2 separate regions of the Homo sapiens genome follow, and region 1 is linked to region 2. The links come from fine-mapping of genetic effects on gene expression. A gene starts in region 2. The other region holds a variant in brackets. All regions are shown on one strand. Distances are from middle to middle.

Region 1 (4,399 bases), 110 kb before region 2:
ACCTGATTCTTGGCTCTCTGGTCTGCTCCAGCTTTAACCAGCATGAGCATGACCTCAAGGCTCCCAGACCAGGCTGCAAGGTGAATTACTGTCAAGCCGTGCTTCCCCAAGAAGACAGAAAAAGAGAATCTATCACTCTGACAAGCTGCAGCCATATACTGCCTCATCAACAAAGGCCAAATTAATACTAGATTGTTGAAAACTAAGAAATAGAGAATTTAATATGCAGCAAAAGTGATATTTCGGTCCTATGGGGAAAAATGGTTATACTTAATAAGTGGTACAGGCAAGTGGTTCTCCATCTGGAAGAAAATAAAATGAAAAGCTATATCATACCATACTCACAAAATAGCACACAAACAATAAATATATTAGAATAAAATCCAGACTATAATGTATAGTCTCTTAATCCAGAGTTAGAACAGATAGATAATAAAGTCAATTAAAAATGACAGATTTTTAAAAATGTATCTTTAATAAAGATAAATGGTTATTCTCTAATGCATGAAGCACACTTACATATGGAGGAGAAAAAGACAAACTCAGAAAAATGGACAAAGAAAGGAAATGGAAATGATTATTGTTTAAGTATCTGGCAATATCTATCAGAATTAAAAATACAACCAGCAATCCCACTCCTGGGAATCTATCCCATGAAAATAAAAATGTCAGTACCTAATTCTATATATATAAGGATAGTAATTGTAACACTAAAAACTGAGTGCAAGATAAAAGCCTATCAACATAGGAATGCTAAATAAGTTATGGAATAGTCAGACTATATAATGCAAGCATTAAAAATAATGAATTGGTGCTACAACAATTGACTTGGAAACATTTCCATGAGCTTTGCTAAATATGGAAAATAAGATAGACAATAAATATGATATAATCCCATTTGTTAAAAAGGAGTGATTAACAAAACCCCATACATGTATATGTATATATCTATATCTATCTATAGGTGGGTTGGTGGGTAGGTAGGTCGATTGATCAATATAGATATGACTATGTGAGCAGGAGAAAAGTACAGAAATAAACACACATATCTCAGATTGTTAAGTATGGTTACCAGAGGAGGAGAGGGTACACACAGGTGAAAAAAACACAAGTTATAAAGAGGATCTCATTTATATAGATGCTACTTAAAATATTTTATTTACACAAAATTATTTAGATTTGTCTGTGTGCAAACACATGTGCATAAAGTTGTGAGACTGAAAGAGACCAGGACTTAGTGACCTGTAGGGATGCTGTGGGCAGTTGTATGCTGACTTGTCTACCAAATAAGGAGAAAAGTGTGGAAGGAAGCATAGCCAGCAGTTAACACTGGTTATTTTAGGGAGGTGAGATTCGAGGGAAATAAGCAAAAAAATGCATCTGCACCCCGGGCCCTAAGTTACAGAAGCAGGATAGGGCAGACACTATGAGCCTGATCTTCAGGATCAAGCAGAACTAATCTCAAATTCTGGTCACTTTCTATCACTTTCAAGTACGGGGATCTTGGTGAACTTAGTTCTAACTCTCAGCTTCAGCTTCCTTATCTGCAAACTCAAGTGTCTGTTTTTCTGTTTCCTTTAGCTCCATGAAAAAGTAATCCATTTCCTCAGTACAAGTGCCTACCCAAAGGAAGCTCTCACACTACATTTTATTTGCCTTTTCTAATCAGTTGTGTTTGTGATCTGGAAACTGTTTGTTAGATGTACACAGTATGAGTAAATGACTAAGGAATGAGGGCCTGCAGTACACTTCTATTTGTAAAGTACATAAGCCTTTTGGCATTTATTTTGGCTGCCCCCAAGTTGCATTAATGTATTCTCTTATTCTCAGTAGAATTCATGTTGGGAGAGTAAAACAGCAAGTCCCAAATTATTGAGGCATAACTCTAAACTGGTGATTCTCAACTGGGGGTGATTTTGCCCCCAGGAAACATTTGGAAAAATGTATGGAGATATTTTTTACTGTCATGCCGTGGGTGGGGGGAGGTTAATATTGGCACCTAGTGGATAGAGGCCAGGGACACTGCTAAACATCCTACAATACACAGGGCAGCCCCAACGACAAAGAATTATCAGGCCCAAAATGTCAATAGCACCACTGTTGAGAAACCCCACTCTTAATGTGCATATCCTATCAAATTTATATTTCAGCTATCACTCTAGACGGTGAGTTAGTCCATTTGTAGGTTTACAATTCCAGCATGAAGAAGACTCTTCATTTCTGGACTCTTTGTTCCAAAGAGAAATGATGAACAATGACTGACTACTTGAGGTTCTTCAAAACATGTTCCCTAAACACAATTCCACCTCTTAATTTGGAGTTCCCTACAAGTCAGCGCTCTATATTTAGTAATACTAAATCTGCTTTCAAATAGAGACCAGAAGGCCAGGCACGGTGGCTCCTGCCTGTAATCCCAGCACTTTGGGAGGCCAAGGTGGGCGGATCACCTGTGGTCAGGAGTTCGAGACCAACCTGACCAACATGGAGAAACCCTATCTCTACTAAAAATACAAAATTAGCCAGGCATGGTGGCGCATGCCTGTAATCCCAGCTACTTGG[A/G]AGGATCGCTTGAACCTGGGAAGAGGAGGTTGCGGCAAGCCAAGATTGCGCCGTTGTACTCTAGCCTGAGCAACAAGAGTGAAACTCCACCTCAAAAAGAAAAAAAAACCACCAGAAATATTTGAGACAGGTGACAAATCACTCTTTGATAGGAGATCTATTTTTCCCTAAAAGGTAATTCCTAATTTCAAAGCAGCCTACATTTTAAAATTCGAAGCTCCGATCATAAAATCTAAAAGCTGGGAATTCAAGCTGCAATCAACTTGAGTCTCTAAAACCACAAACTCAGAGTGGAGCCATTGTTCCTCAGAGGCAATGAATCACCGCTCACAGGTGTAAACTCCCCGAGAAGAACCTCCATAAAAGAAATTCTTCTGATATAAAACTGGCATGCCTGAGACTACTTAAGACCATGTGTCACAAATTACACTCACAGTTGGCTCACGAAGCTCTGTAAAGTGTACATTGCTCAATAGTCACTGATAACCTGTCCTCATTGCCAGTCTCGTCATAGGTGAGGCCAATAATTTCCTCTGGGGAACACTTCCATGTTAGGAGCTTCCCAGAGGTAAGAAGCTTTGTCAGCAGATGTTTTTATCCTCTGAGCACCACTTGCACCCACCTGGGATTCTTTACACCTGTCTGGAGTAAGAGCCTCCATTTATCCAGTCTGCCTCTTCCCAGGACTCGGGGTTGCTGCTCACTTTGGTCCCTAGCATGCAGTGCCTTGAATGGTACTCAGCTGGTACAGTCTCTGTCCTTGCTCCCCAGATAGACTGTAGGCCCTGCAAAGCCATGACTCTATTTCATACCAGTGCTTCCCAAAAACAATCACCTAGGAATTTTTTAAAAATGCAGATTCTGATTAAGGCCTGGGGTGGGGCCTGAGATCCTGCATTTCTAACAAGCTTGCAGGTGATGTGCATGCTTCAAGTCCTGGGACTACACTTTAAATAGCAATGACTTCTGTCTAATTGAATCCTCAGTAGTTGACACTGAGACATATGCACAACAGCCACTGAATAAATATTGATGGTGAAGGGGATCAACTGTTGGCTCTTTGCAAATGGTGTTAGAACTTAGAAGAAGTCAAACTCAAGGCTCACCATTCAGATAAAGAAGCTGCCAGATTGGGTCAAACATGACCTTGGTTGAATTATGAAAAACATTTTACTAGTTACAGAGTAATGCCACTGTAGATGATTTAATTAGTTATAAATATATTTAACTTAGTGAAACCTTCAAAGCAGGAAAAAGAGACACACCAGGAATTACTATATTTCCCACCTGACATTATTTCAATCTTCAGGCAAAGTTAAGAGAAATAGTCATGCTTCAGAGACAAGGTAATACAAATAGATGTTTAGAAAAACCTCAAGGAGAACAAGTTGGTGAAATATCTCTCCATCATTTCAGGAATAATTGATTTGCACTCTGACACAAACCAGTCCTGTATTTAACATATTAGAAACATGGCAATCCTCAGATATTCTGTTTAAAAGAAAAGATGCAATCTAATATGGGCAATGGATACATAGGTGTTTGCTGTATGATTCCCGCTACTTTGGTATGTTAGAGATTTGGGGTTATGGTTTTTGTTAAAACGAAGTAAGCACAGTCCACTCTGTCTCTGCCACCAAAACAAATAAAATCTCTGGAAAGAATGCATGGAACGTACACTTACTATATACCCACACAAATTTTAAATTAAAATTAAAAAAAAAAAGAATGCATGGAACAGCTGAGGACTCTGTAAATGGTATCAGGTGGATTGGGGAAAAAATCAGAACTCAAAGTAAGGACAATCCTGCAGTGACTTTCCTGATTTTTCTTTTCCTTC
Region 2 (4,399 bases):
AGAAAACAATGAATCTACAGAAGAAGTGGTTTATATCTTACTTTTATAGCACCCCAGTCAGATTATCATATAGCAAGATCTTAATAAAGATCTTAAACAGGGATAAAGTATATTTTCATAAACTATCACCATAGCAACATGTTCTATAAAAATATATTTTTTCAACTTATTTGACTAAGAAGAAAAGGATGTGAAATTATAGTAGAAGTGAAACAATAAAAAGGTTAGAAAAAAACAGGAAGCAAAACACGTTTACTAAATAACTATCAAGAGGATTCTACTGATACCTAATATACCACCACACTGCTTTATATAGTATGCCTTTAAAATATTAATAAAAGAATTTCTCACAGTAACAGGAAGAGACTCAAAAGCTAAGCAAAATAAAAACGACAGAAAGAACATGTGTACATGCCAAGAGTGGGCACTAATACTGTTCATTGGTGTACCGTACTGTGTGCTTTTTAGACTAAAAGATTTTCCAATGTTATAGTGAAGCCTATGAAATACCAACTACTCTAACAAGTTTTTATCCCATAAACCAAACAGATAGGAGTAAAAGATATGGGAATACATTTTCAATTTCATTGAATAGTAAGAATATTTCTGCTTGAAACATTCCTAGCCTGGCTCTCATTTCTACAATAGGAAACAGGATAAAAAGGGTGGCCTACACACCCTTTGAAATTCCATTTCTGAAATCACTGTCTTATTCTCGAATGTTAGAACTTTTTATGAGATCTGACATATTCTCAAGCAGCTGTGAAGTGCATTAAGGTATCAATGAGTATCCCCATCTACCTCTTCCCTCCCACTTTTCCAAAAATACAGCTGTCTTTGGAGACTTAAATGGTAAAAATCAACAGATAAAGGAGTCCTAGACAGATATGCAAAGTCACCTTAAGGATCAAAGCTGCAGAATAAGACATGGCAGTATGAGCATAATATAATAATAATTGATATTAGTAAAAGAACTCATCAATATAAATGGAGTGTGGATGGTCAGAAAAAGAAGAAAGTAAAAGAAAGCAAGATAAATATTGGCAATGCCTACTTAAATATCCATTGCCACGATAGGGATAACCTAGCTTCATGCTACCAACCATTCAGAATCGTAATTAATCCCCCATGCAGGAAGAAAAAAATATGATACTGGGATATGGGAGAAGGTCATCAAGCCTAGATTTGAAACCAGGATATAAAGAGCTGGAGTTACAGGCACCTACCACCATGCTCGGCTAATCTTTGTATTTTTAGTAGAGACGGGGTTTTACCTTGTTGCCCAGGCTGGTCTCAAACTCCCGGCCTCAGGTGATCCACCCACCTCGGCCTCCCGAAGTGCTGGGATTACAGGCGTGAGCCACCACACTCGGCCAGCGTTTTCCCTTAGACTCGAAATTTCGCTCCTATCGTCCCATCCTTGTAGTAAGAAAGTACTCTTTCTAAGGTTTAATAACAAATTTTACTCTTGGCAATTACAAGGAAATCGACTATATTAAAATAGCTAACGAGAGGAAATTACTGAAGCTACAAAGTCAAAGTCTCATAATCAAAGTTATCCTTGACAACTGACAAGAGTTGTTAGATCTTCTATTGGTCTTTCTGCTAATTCAACCCTAGTCTTAAAACAAAAATAGCCTCCTATTGCCTAATCCCTTGTACACACAAAACCACTGCACTTCGGTATTTCTAATACGAGAAAGTTTCTATATATCCAACCTTTCCTATCTTTGAGGGGCAGGCATGGTTAACGTGGTTCTCAGTAAGATATTCATTTACAACCAAGAGAAAATCCCAGGCTATCATCTCACATTCTTGTTTTACTTTAAAAACCTTTCTAACGTCATTTATTCTCTGACAACCTCAAAATTACTTTCTACAAAGCAAACTCTAGAAATCTAAAAATGCGAAGTGCGTGCTTGTGAGAAGGTACTAAGGAAATTCTTCCTTTAAACGTCAAATGTGAATTCTAACTTCTAATGAGTAAGACCCTCGAGATTTACAGCGGTGGTCTGGTGGAAAGAAAACCCTTGGCACTAGTAGCTCACAAAACCCCAGCCCATGGTTGAGGCGGAAGCGGCCAGATGCTCCCGGGCTTTCGACAAGCCGCCCTGGAAAGCAGGCCCGTCATCTTCAGCGGAAAGCTCTCTCACGTCTGGGCCCGCAAGCCCGGAGGGTTCGTCATAAACACACAAGGCAAGGATAGAAGCGAGGCCGAGGGGCTGGTCACGCAACTGTCAAACGAAGCCCACCCACCGACTGACAAGGCCCCAAGGGGACAAGCGATCCCCGCGCGGGATACTCACCCGTTACCTCAGGATCGCGACTACAACTCCCAGGAGGCTGCGCGAGCGACGGACCAACGCCCTTCCCAGAATGCAGCACAGCTGCATCCCTACCCCGCCCTCTCCTTTCTCCGCTCCTCCTGCTTTTCTACCCGTCGTCACCCGGGAGAGCCGGAGGTAGGGTTCGGGAGGAGGATCCCGAAGGCTCGGCGTGTCGCGTCAGACGCCGGGAGGGGGACGGGGCGGGGAGTAGTGGGGGAGAATGGGAGGACGAAGGGGAGGGGAAAGGACAGGGGAGGGGAGGGTAAATAGTGGGCCAGGCAGGAAGATGGCGGCGGTAGCGGAGGTGTGAGTGGACGCGGGACTCAGCGGCCGGATTTTCTCTTCCCTTCTTTTCCCTTTTCCTTCCCTATTTGAAATTGGCATCGAGGGGGCTAAGTTCGGGTGGCAGCGCCGGGCGCAACGCAGGGGTCACGGCGACGGCGGCGGCGGCTGACGGCTGGAAGGGTAGGCTTCCTTCACCGCTCGTCCTCCTTCCTCGCTCCGCTCGGTGTCAGGCGCGGCGGCGGCGCGGCGGGCGGACTTCGTCCCTCCTCCTGCTCCCCCCCACACCGGAGCGGGCACTCTTCGCTTCGCCATCCCCCGACCCTTCACCCCGAGGACTGGGCGCCTCCTCCGGCGCAGCTGAGGGAGCGGGGGCCGGTCTCCTGCTCGGTTGTCGAGCCTCCATGTCGGATAATCAGAGCTGGAACTCGTCGGGCTCGGAGGAGGATCCAGAGACGGAGTCTGGGCCGCCTGTGGAGCGCTGCGGGGTCCTCAGTAAGGTGAGCAACCCCTGGTGCCAAGGGACCCCTGGCCAGACTCACCTGCAGCGAGGCAATCCGCTGAGGCGGTGGGGTGGGGCTGGCGGGAGGCGCGGAACGTGCCGGGGTGCGAGGCTGAGTGTTGCTGCAGCGACTAGGGATGAGGCGGGGATATAGGGGCACTGTCCTTGTTGCCCGGGGGCTCGTCGGGGGCAGCCGAGGACCAGGGAAAGGGTGTATAAACCTGAGATCCAGTTTGGGAGGCCAGATGCGCGCCGTGACTTGGGACTTAGGGCGGCAGCTGTCCCGGGTGTAAGGAATCCGGGTTGGGCTTCAGCGGTGTCCGAACGACTGGGCATGGGAGCGGTTCAAGTCGGACCTCTTAAAAGAGGTTGGTCTCTCTGAGGATGCCAAGCCGAGTAGGTTGGGGGGCACTGCGGACGCAACTCTTTCGACAGAAGCTGGAGCGACTCAGCTTGGTGTTGAAATTTGAGGTGTTGAATTCTGCTAGGTTAGATGTAGTGAGACAGATGAATGTGGAGGACTTTCTCCCTCACCCTGTACCTTAGTTCAGAATAGAGATATTGAATCGGCACATGATGGGTACAGGAAATATTCATAGTAACTTGGAACATGTGAGAATGGAGACTGATCTTTAGTCCAGGAAGAGCATTACTTAATAATAAAATATTTTTGCGGTAAGGGGTCGAGGGTAAGGAAAAGATGTTTTATCTTTTATATATTTTTTAAAATCCCTGTATCAAAATTTTAGCAAAGCAGTCATTATAGGACTGCAGGTGGATGATCTCTTGATATTACATAGTTGTGGGGATTTTTTTTTTAAGTTTTTGCTGTAAGAAGATTCACGTAGCCTTTTTGACTTCTCTCTCCCTTCCTGTTAAACTTTTTTAGACATGGCTGGAGCTAGCAGTTAACTTGGAGAGGGGGAGCTGGGCCAGTCCCTCAACAAGCTGGTCATAAGATACTATGTCATGTGCAGCCAGTGGCTATTAAGAAATCACCCTGTTTCCAGTATTCATATTTGGCAAATCACTTGGACATTATTTGTGGAATTGTTTCATATTAGGCTTTTATAATGTCTAGAAAGCTAATGAGAAGGGGGCCAGGAAAGGCATGAGTAGTCAGAACTAAGGATTGCAAGTGTTGACTTTTATTTGTATAGCAGCAAAATTATGTTGTATATTGATGCTGTGATCATTCTTGAAATTTCAGTGCAAGGTTTTCAGTAACGAGAAGCTCCTCAGGATTTCTTTAGATTAAATGTATCCTGTAATTTAGGAATCTCTATTG

Direction of the effects. Positions count from the first base shown, and alleles are read on the strand shown. Sizes are in standard deviations (SD) of each study's normalised expression.
For the expression in left ventricle of the gene that starts at base 2,330 in region 2, allele G in region 1 goes with a higher level than allele A (small effect, 0.36 SD a copy in GTEx).

The links. PIP is the estimated chance that this variant, and not a neighbour inherited with it, causes the effect. A credible set is the group of variants that fine-mapping cannot tell apart.
Region 1: its variant is the best candidate, but not a certain one, in a credible set for the expression of POLK in left ventricle (GTEx, PIP 0.76).

Annotation. Positions count from the first base shown.
Region 1 is chr5:75,621,349-75,625,747 of GRCh38, reverse strand. ANKDD1B (ankyrin repeat and death domain containing 1B) reads right to left here. Exons shown (of 14, transcript NM_001276713.2): 4 at 3-101. Among named protein-coding and RNA genes, the nearest start is that of ANKDD1B, 12 kb to the right of the region's middle. The variant A/G (reference allele first, on the strand shown) is at 2,560.
Region 2 is chr5:75,509,822-75,514,220 of GRCh38, reverse strand. POLK (DNA polymerase kappa) reads right to left here and starts at 2,330. Exons shown (of 15, transcript NM_016218.6): 1 at 2,307-2,330. CERT1 (ceramide transporter 1) reads left to right here and starts at 2,592. Exons shown (of 17, transcript NM_001379029.1): 1 at 2,592-3,109. The coding sequence starts at 3,014. RefSeq lists enhancers at 2,036-2,415, 3,166-3,235.